Homo sapiens: one gene and its partner. The protein of the gene in region 2 interacts with the protein of the main gene of each other region in a biochemical or structural test. Each region holds a gene or a part of one and is shown on either strand. Other genes may lie near its edges.

The links.
Region 1: the proteins of STX1B (region 2) and SNAP23 form a complex in vitro, tested with the Homo sapiens proteins (one study listed by BioGRID).

The regions. Positions count from the first base shown.
Region 1 is NC_000015.10:42,515,546-42,520,169, forward strand, and holds part of SNAP23 (synaptosomal-associated protein 23), read left to right. Parts: intron 1-4,624. UniProt on the Homo sapiens protein: Essential component of the high affinity receptor for the general membrane fusion machinery and an important regulator of transport vesicle docking and fusion.
Region 2 is NC_000016.10:31,007,255-31,012,928, forward strand, and holds the start of STX1B (syntaxin-1B), read right to left. Parts: upstream 3,385-5,674; 5' UTR 3,143-3,384; coding exon 3,113-3,142; intron 1-3,112. UniProt on the Homo sapiens protein: Potentially involved in docking of synaptic vesicles at presynaptic active zones. May mediate Ca(2+)-regulation of exocytosis acrosomal reaction in sperm.

The DNA.
Region 1 (4,624 bases), on a different chromosome or scaffold from region 2:
TGACCAATCCTGGGATCAAGTCCAATTTCAATTTGTAGTAATACATGAAAAGGTTAGGAAGTATAGGGAAATGTATATCTGGATGATGGAAAGCAGGATGGAGTTATTTTCTTTTCCTTTCAAAGGAGGAGTATTAACAAAATATATATTTTGTGGTAGGCACATGAGGGATGGCCAAAAGAGTAGAAGAGTTGGGAAAGAATGGCAAAACATAAAAAATACATAAATCTAATGTTAGATTATATGATAGTGAGCAAGGCTAAATCTAATGTTAGATTATATGATAGTGACCAAGGCTAGGTATACAGAACTGATAAAGGTTGGGTTGGAGAGCATCTTATAGAAGAGGTAGGATGTGGATTGGGCTTTGAGTGATAAGAAGGATTTGGATGAACAGGGAGGAACAGTGAGGGCATTTCCTATGAAAGGTTCAAAATAAAGATTAACAAGGAGCTTGACTTAACTGAGCTGTGTGACTCATGTAGATGAGAAGTGGAAAGTAAGATATAAGTAGGTAGTAGAGGAACTTGAATGCCAAACTAAGGAGTTGACAGATTGGAGTGGAGTATAAAAAGAAACGACAGTATCTGGAGATTGAATGACTGTACTCACTGCTGAAAGTTTTGTTTTGTTTTTTTTCTGAGACAGGGTCTCTGTTACTGAGGCTGGAATGCAGTGGCGTGATCACAGCTCACTGCAGCCTCTCTTTCCTGGGCACAAGAGATCCTCCCACCTTGGCCTCCCAAAGTGCTAGGATTACAGGCATGAGCCACTGCACACAGCCAAAGTATCCTTTTTTTTTTGAGACGGAGTCTCACTCTGTTACCAGGCTGGAATGCAGTGGCGCAGTCTCAGCTCACTGCAACCTCCGTCTCCTGGGTTCAAGTGATTTCTCCTGCCTCAGCCTCCCGAGTAGCTGGGACTACAGGCGCATGCCACCACACCCAGCTAATTTTTGTATTTTTAGTAGAGACGGGGTTTCACTATGTTGGCCAGGATGGTCTTGATCTCTTGACCTCATGATCCGCCCGCCTTAACCTCCTCAAGTGCTGGGATTACAGGTGTGAGCCACCACACCCGGCCTCAATGTATTCATTTTTAAAGAGGTTCTTAGACATTAATATTTCATCCAGTTCTCAGCTGGTCTTGTAAACCAACAGCGGTTATATTTTTATATTTTCAGTAAGTGTTTTTATGAAACAACATTTTTATGCCATTTCTGTTATAGAAAGTAGAGATTAATTGCTTGTCAGTCAACTTTAGTGTTTGTTTTGGCCATGAGGAAAGGTTTGACAGTGTTCTTCCTAGTCTTATCCATTGGCTTCCTATTCTAACACAAGTCTGTTGACCTGTTTACACCTTGGTTGACCAACTGAAAGTTCTGTATTTTTTGAGACGGAGTCTCGCTCTGTCACCCAGGCTGGAGTGCAGTGGTGTGATCTCGGCTCACTGCAACTTCCACCTCACGGGTTCAAGTGATTCTCCTGCCTCAGCCTCCCAAGTAGCTGGGATTACAAATATGTGCCACCATACTCAGCTAATTTTTATATTTTTAGTAGAGACAGGGTTTCGCCGTGTTGGCCAGGCTGGTCTCAAACTCCTAACCTCAGGTGATCTGCCCGCCTCTGCCTCCCAAAGTGCGGGGATTACATGCGTGAGCCACTGCTCCCGGCCAAAAGTTCATATTTTAATAACTATGACTTGTCAATCAGAGTTTAGCAGATTACTTTAAGCAAACAAGTTAAAATGTACAGATTATTTGATACAAACTCTTAGCTATGTTTTACAAACATAATTGTACCTTTCTCTTGTGTTCCATGTACCTTCTTGGAAGAGTACAGAAGAGAGGAAGTAGATGAATTTTCTTGAGATCAGATGTTAGGAGAACAAGGAGAAAGAAGTCTCCCCTAAAATCTTAGAGGAAGATCAGCTCTAAGTCACGTGTTGATAAATAGGAAGAGCACTGAATTAGACCTAAGATGGTCTAATATCATAGAAAGTGGGAAATGCAGCTACAGAGTATTAATTTTATGTCTCTTTGTGTATCCCAGCCAAGCATAGGCAAGCTTTTCTTGAAGACTGGTGGGAAACAAGGTAGGGTATGGTCCTGAATCAGCATTCTTCAGCCTCTAACCTCAGTAGAACCCTTTCTCAGTGGATCAAGAGAAGGCATTACTTTTTTAGAGATGGCCTCTCCCTCTGTCTCCCGGGCTTGAATGCAGTGGTGCCACCATAGCTCACTGTAGCCTCAAACATCTGGGCTCAAGCAATCCACCCACATCAGCCTCCCAAGTAGCTAGGATTACAGGTGTGTGCCACCATGCCCAGCTAATTTTTGAAATTTTTTGTAGAGACAGGGGTCTTGCTATGTTGCCCAGGCTTGTATCAAACTCCTGGCCTCAAGAAATCCTCCCACTTCAGCCTCCCAAAGCACTGGGATTACAGGCTTAAGCCACTGCACCCAACTGGCACTTCTTTCTTTTTTTTTTTCTGGCACTTCTTGAGAGATGGAATCAAGGGGCTGCTGTAACAAAACAGTTCCCTTAAGAGAAGAAAGTATTATCTCAGTTAAAGATGTCTGATTGTAATTGTCTTTCTTCCACCTATTTCTTTCTTACACCATTGAGACCTTGGCCAGTATGATATCTCTTATCCTCAGCTCTGTTCCTATCATTCTTGCCTGTGTCTTGATCTTTCTAATCTGCTAGTCTGTGTTTCAGTTAGGCTCGTCACATGAATAACCATAACATGAGCTTCTTAAAGGTAGACATGAGATCTTAGTCCTATGTGTAAGGCCTAGTCTTCATACCAGCAGTAGCAGTAACAACCCAGGTCAGGTCCAGAGTTCCTTATTTGCCATTTGGAAATACTTTTTCTTTTCTTTCTCTTTTTTTTTTTTTTTTTTCTCGAGACAGGGTCTCGCTCTGTTACCCAGGCTGGAGTGCAGTGGCAGTCATGGCTCACTGCAGCCTCAACCTATCCTCCAGCGTCAGCCTCCTGAGTAGCTGGGATTACAGGCACATGCCACCACACCCAGCTAATTTTGTATCTTTTGTAGAGACAAGGTTTCACCATGTTGGCCAGGCTGGTCTTGAACCCTTGGGCTCAGGCAGTCTACCCACCTTGGCCTCCAGAAGTGCTGGGATTGCAGGCATGAGCCATTAAGCCCTGCTGGCCATTCAGAAATCTAAAAAACTCCTAAAGTTTTGTTTTATTTTTGCTGTAATGGTGCCACAACTCATTAGGGTATAAAATGTAACCTGAACTGAAGCTATGTTTAGTCTTTATTACTTGCTGTAGATATTAATTGGTTTCACTACAGAAATACTCTTTTTGAGTCAGGGTCTCACTCTGTCACCCAGGTTGGAGTACAGTGGTATGATCTTGGCTCACTGCAGCCTCGACCTCCTAGGTTCAAGTGATCCCCCCACCTCAGCCTCATGAGTAGCTGGGACTACAGGTGCATGTCACCATGCCTGGTTTGTTTTTAAAAACTTTTGTTTCTTCTTCTTTTTTTTTTTTTTTTTGAGACGGAGTCTCACTCTGTTGCCCAGGCTAGAGTGCAGTGATGCAGTCTCAGTTCACTGCAACCTCTGCCTCCTAGGTTCAACCGATTCTCCTGCCTCAGCCTCCCAAATAGCTGGGATTACTGGTGCCTGCCACCACGCCCAGCTAATTTTTGTATTTTTAGTAGAGATGGGGGTTCACCATGTTGGCCAGGCTGGTCTTGAACTCCTGACCTCAGGTGATCCGCCTGCCTCGGCCTCCCAAAGTGCTGGGATTACAAGCATGAGCCACCATGCCTGACCCTGTTTCTTTTCTTTTCTTTTTCTTTTTTTTTTTTGAGACAGAGTTTTACGTTGTCACCCAGACTGGAGTGCAGTGGTACAATCTCGGCTCACTGCAACCTTCGCTTCCTGGGTTCAATCGATTCTCATGCCTCAACCACCCAAGTAGCTGGGATTAGAGGCATGCACCAACACCTTGCTAACTAATGTATTTTTAGTAGAGACGGGGTTTTGCCATGTTGGCCAGGATGGTCTTGAACTCCTGACCTCAAGTGATCCACCCACCTCGGCCTCCCAACGTGCTGGGGTTACAGGCATGAGCCACCGTACCTGGACTTTAAAAAGTTTTTGTAGAGATGAGTTCTCACTATGTTGCTCAGGCTGGTCTCAAACTCCTAAGCTCAAGCAATCCTCCCACATTGGCCTCCCAAAGTGCTGGTATTACAGAAATGAGCCACCACACGCAACGTCACTACAGAAATATTAATGTATTTAATTATGTGGTACTGTCCAAAACATCTTGCCCCCAATGGATTGGGGTAACAGTTGTGGGCCTGTGCATTAATTTAAGGTACTATTCTGAACATGTTAATTTAATCCTTAAACAGTAGCCTTAATATGAGATAGATGTTTTTTATTATTATCATTTTACATCCAGGCTACACTATGTAGTGGAAGAGCTGGGATTCAAAACCAGGCAGAACCCCCTTGCTTTTTTTTTTTTTTTTTTTTTTTTGAGACAGAGTCTTGCTGTATCACCAGGCTGGAGTACAGTGGTGTGATCTCAGCTCACTGCAACCCCTGCCTCCCAGGTTCAAGTGATTCTGCTGCCTCAG
Region 2 (5,674 bases):
GGGCCTTTGGGGCACGGGGCGGTCCCTCAGCAGCCTTCATCCTGTCCAGCCTCAGATTCAGGCTCCTGCAGTGCAGGCCCCACCTTCCTCCCAGGGTGTCTCCGCACTTCTCCCACCCGACTCCACAGCTGCGTCTCAGACCTCAGCCCTCCCTGTGCCCCTCCTGTCTTCTCCCATAACCCACCTTCCTCTCCACCTCACTCACTCTGCTCTTTCCTCTGGAGCCCCACTCTGGCTTCACTCCTTAGACCCTGGGACACCTATTTAGCTGATTAACTCCTTTTCACAGCCTCCACAACCAGCCTAGCACCAACCAAGGTTGCCTGGTAAACTGGACGCAGAAAACCCTGGTTCAAGCCCACCTCAACCATTAAAAGCTATCTGACCTTGGACAAGTCAGGTTTTTTTTACCCCCTCTGGCCCTCAATGTACTCCAAAATAAAATAGGGGCCATGTCCTGCCCATCGCAGGGGGCTTGTGTGGTGTTGAAGAGAAATAAACAAGCCATCTGCTGGGTAACAGACACACAGCACTGCTGGGCGCCAGGCCCCCTCCTAGGCACCTGATGCATATTAACTACTTCCAGTCCTCAGGACAACCCTGTGAAACAGGCACTCTTACTTCTCCCAACTCATACGCGAAGAAATTGAGGACCAGAGAGGTTAAGCAACTTGCCCAAGGTCTCACAGGAAGTAGCAAAATTAGAATTTGAACCCAGACAGTCTGGCTCCCGAAACCACTGTGTGACAAACGGACTTGAGAACCCCTTGGGAATGCCAAGGTACTGTTGGAAAGACAATCAGTCCCCTGGGCTAATGTCCCCTCCCACCACCGCCCCTGCCTCATCCCTCCCAGTGTCTCAGAGACCCCGTTTCCAGGTCCCCCACACCCTGCCAGGTGTCTCCTGCATCCCAGGCTCCTTGCTTTCAACTGTAGCAGGGAGACCCTTACGCTACCTGAATCTGTCAGCTTTTCCCACCCCGCCCGCCCCCTCTTGAATCTCCAGTTTCCCTGAGCTGTGACTAATACCAAAGCCACCACATCCACTCAGCCCCTTCACCCTTCCACACCACCTCCGGCAGCCACAGCCAACAGGATTCCTTACCTCTGAGCAGGGGCCCCTGACTCATTCATGAGGCCTCCCCCTCCCCTGCCTCCCCCTTACCCCGCTTAGCCTTTTCCCTCCCTCTTTCTCGAATTGTACCCCAATTCCACACCACCTGATCCCAACCCACTTCCATTTCCCTGGGTTTTGGAGTCATGGAATAGTCCTGGTAGCAGGGGAACTGGGTTCAAGTCCGGATCCCTCACCTGCTAGCTGTGTGACCTTTGGAAAGTTATTCAACCACTCTGGGCCTCAGTTTCCCCAACTCTAAAATGAAAGAGCCTCCCCGTCCACTTGCCAGGAGGTCAGTGGGGCTCTAATGACATCACGGATGAAAGCCTGCTCTGCAAACTGAGGAGGGGAATTGACAGCACCGATGCTGAAGCCGGCCTGCCTGGGTTTGAATCCTGCCTTTACCAGCTGTGTGACTTTGGTCTAATTACTTAACCTCTCTGAGCTTAGTGTCCTTATCTATAAAATGAGATAACATATATCTATATATCTAAAAAGATATTTATATATCTATGAAATGAGATAACCAGTCTCATAGGATTGCTGTGAGGATCAAAATGAGTGAATATGCATAAAACACTTCAAACAATGTTTATTATTACTGTCACTTTCCTCATGCCTGAGTGTATATTCAGTAAAAATGTAATAAAGAAACCTTTAAAATTCCCTCCCTCAGCCACCAGCTCCTCCTTGCTTCCCATTTGGCAACCTGTCTGTCCCCAGAGACAGCGGTCACTTGCCTCCAAACACCTTCTTCTCGTCTGTCTGTAACCTGGGTCCCCACCCCCAAATCCAGGGGACAGCTCTTCACCCCCAGTGCTGAAACTTCTGTTTCAAAGGCCAGAAAAGCAGAGACCTGTGTCAACCTAGCAGACAGGAAACCCAGATTGCAGTCTGCCCCCCACCCACTTGCTTGGTGACCTTGGACAAGTCCCTTCCCACGCCTGAATCTCAGTTTCCTCATCTGTCAAGTGGGGTAATAACCCCTGGGGTAACAACCCACCAGTTCCCTGTAAAGGCTCAGTGCATTGGGCAGCTCAGCCGGGGCCGGTACCCTTATTAACATAACACCACCAGCCCAGCACAGTGCGGACTGTCAGTGCTGCCTCCTCGGGCCCCAGGTCATTTCTCCAAATACCCCAGCGTCCTCCCTGCCCCTGAAACCATTCTCATCGAACCCCACTCCCCAGTTCCTCCAGGTAGCAGCCTCCACTGCAGTCCTTCCCCTGTCCCCCCAAAACCAGGGACTGCCTGGCCAGACTCTTGGAGCCGGGCCTCTTCAGGCCTGCAGACCTGGGGCCTGCATCAGCCCTTGACTGCCCGGGGTGCCCCAGTTCCCCCAAGCAGAGCACGGCCCGTGTTCCATGGCCCTCTCCTCTGCATCCCCATCTCCCACCTCTGGGTCACCCTGTCTCAGGCCCTGGCCCTCTGGCTCTCTCCGGAGGCCACCTCTTCCCTCCCTGTCTCGGAGAGATGCCCCCTCCCTATAGGGAGTGACACACGCGTGTGCACACACACACACACTTCATTCACTGCCAGGTGCTGGCATCTCAGTCCCAACCTGTGTCCTTCCCCGTAGCATCCCCTGAATCTGGGTCCTGCTAGACTCTCAGCCTGGCCCAGTCACCGCCCCCATGCTTCTCTTTGGCAAACCTGCCCAGGGGATGACAGTCTCCTCCGGTTTCTCCTGATATCCACTCTCTCCCATCCCCAGACCAGACCCCGGGGCCCTCCTGGGAATGCGGGGTGTTCGAGGCCCCTGAGACCTCTCCTGCCCCCTTGTGTCTTCATGGCCTCCAACCCCTTCCAGGCACTGTCCCCAAAATGCAGGTTCACTGGAGAGACATCAGGCGCCTGAAGATACTGGGGTGCTCCGGCTACCAACCTCCGATCTCATCCTTCGCCCCCACGTCCCAGCACCTCCCCCACTCCATCCCCACGCGCTCCCCCAATATTGGGGTCCCGCCCCCCCATTCTCCCCACCCCCAAGCTCACACTCCGCAGCTCTTGAGTCCGATCCTTCATCCTGCGACGGCTCCTCCTCCTCCTCCTAGTCCTCCTGCCTCTGCTGCTGCTCCGGGTCTCCCGCCTCTGTGCCGGAGGCCGGGGTCTGGGGGCGCCGGGGGGCGCCGCGGCCGCTGCGGGGGGCCTGCGGGCGGGGGCGGGGCCGGGGGCGACTGGCCGAGGGCCGGGCAGGGGCAGGGGCCTGGGCCGGGCTCGGCTCTGCCGGGCTGCGGTGGCGATGCGGCTGCGGCACAGGGTAGGATGGAGGGATGCGGGAGCCGAGCGCGGGGGAGGGGGGCGGAGGGAGGTGAGGAGGAAGCGAGGGCGGGGGGAGCGGGAGCGCGCAAGGAGCAGGGGGCATGCGCAGCACCCGGGCCGGGGGCGCCTGGGGGTTGTAGTCACGGGCTTGGGGGACACCCGAGGAGGGGGCGGGAGAGGCCTGGAGGCGGGTGGGGGTGGGCAGAGCCCGAGGAGCAGGGAGAGATGCGGAGAGCCAAGCGGAGATGCTAGGGTGGCCCGGGGGGTGGGGTGGCCCGGCGGAAAGAGGGGGTGACGGAATGAATTCAGGGAATAACCTGGGAGCCAGGATGTGGATCCCTTTCCAGGAGACACAGATCGCGGCTGTGTTTTGTGTCTGGTGTCTGCGTGAGGCTGCGCGCCGACCACCTCTGGGTGCGAGCCCATGTGTGTTCTTGCAGGAGGCTCTTTGGACACTATAAATAGAAAGACCGACCCTCTGTGTGGTTTTTACGATGCAGGGAACCAGCCAGGTGCTTGCTGAGAAGGACACGGGGCTTGTGTTGCACAGCCTGGGCCTCTCCCGCCGCGGTGGGTCTCGGAGCTCTGCTTGTCTGCCTCCAGGGACAGGGTGCTCACTACCTCCCAGGACCTCTTGGCCCATCTGCAGATGGCTCTGACTGTTGAACATGAAATTTGTCCTTAGTGGGAGGGGAAATCAGGTGCCCCTGAGGGTCTGAGTGACCTCCTGTTCTGATGCCCACCTCTCCTCTCCCCATCCTTACACCACACCAGCTCCTCCCACCCCCTGCAATGGGGCGCCGGTCCCCAATGGGACAGGTCTTGACTCTCAATCGATCCTCCTGCCTCAGCCTCCCAAAGTGCTGGGATTCCATGCCTGGGCCACCGCACCCGGCATTCTCTTGCCAGGTACCCAGTGACCTCCTTGGTGCCAAATCTGTGTCTGATAAACCCTCATCCCACACCGCCAGTCGGGCCTTACCATCCCTGACCTCTCAGCAGCATGTGACCCTGATGAGCCCCTCTTCCTGAAACCCTCCTGTCTGTGGTGCTCCGCCCACCTACCCCCCAACCTGATCTGTGAGTGTTGTCTCCCAGCCTCTTTCCAGGTCCTTACCTTTTTTCCCACAGCCCTTCAACCTCAGGGTTCCCTGGGCTCCGTCCATTCTCTCTTTTTTTTTTTTTTTGAGTTAGGGTCTCATTCTGTTGCCCAGGCTAGAGTACAGTGGTGCAATCTCGGCTCACTGCAGCCTCAACGTCCCAGGCTCAAGTGATCCTCCCACCTCAGCCTCCTGAGTAGCTGGGACTACAGGCACGCGCCACCACACCTGGCTAATTTTATTTTTTGTAGAGACAGGGTCTCACTATGTTGTCCAGGCTGGTTTTGAACTCCTAGGGTCAAGCGATCCTCCTGCCTCAGCCTCCCAAAGTGCTGAGATTACAGGCCTGGGCCACCATGCCTGGCATTCTCTTCCTTCTTTACCTGCATCTTTCTGCACCTCCGTGTCTGCAGTGCCCACATCTGTACCTGCGAGCCAGATCCTCCCCCTGTAAGACAGCCCCTACTATATGCCTAAGCTCTGAGCTGGGCACCAAGAAGACAGAGATTGAAGATGCCACCAGAGCCATGAGTAGATCCATGACTACAGTGGGCATGGCTAGCGCTGACGTGGGGACCTCAAGGAGGTGGCTGTCCCCAAAGTGTTCCTTCCTGTGTTCTCCCTCAGAGATGGCGTCATCTCCATCCACCCAGCCACTCAAAGCACAGAAAGCTGTCCTTGCCTCCCCGCCATTATAATGCCAGCACGTTCTGGGCATCCAACGTGTTGCATTCACTATGCTGGTAGCTCCCAGAAACCTCCCAACCTCACAGTAGCCACTGCTAAGATCCCAAGTGTATAGACAAGGACACTGAGGCTTTGCATGGTCACATAACATATCCAAGTTCACAAGGTTAATAAAGGGCAGGGCTGGGGTCTTGTTTGCTTTTTTTTTTTTTTTTCCAGAGACAGGGTCTCACTCTGTTCCCCAGGCTGGAGTGCAGTGGTGCAATCACACCTCACAGCAGCCTTGACCTCCTGGGCTCAAGCAATCCTCCCATCTCAGCCTCCTGAGTAGCTGGGACTACAGGTGTACACCACTGTGTCCAGCTAATTTTCTTTCTTTCTTTCTTTCTTTTTTTGAGAGAGAGTCTCGCTCTGTCACCCAGGCTGGAGTGCAATGGCGCGATCTTGGCTCACTGCAATCTCCGCCTCCTGGGTTCAAGTGATTCTCCTGCCTCAACCTCCCAAGTAG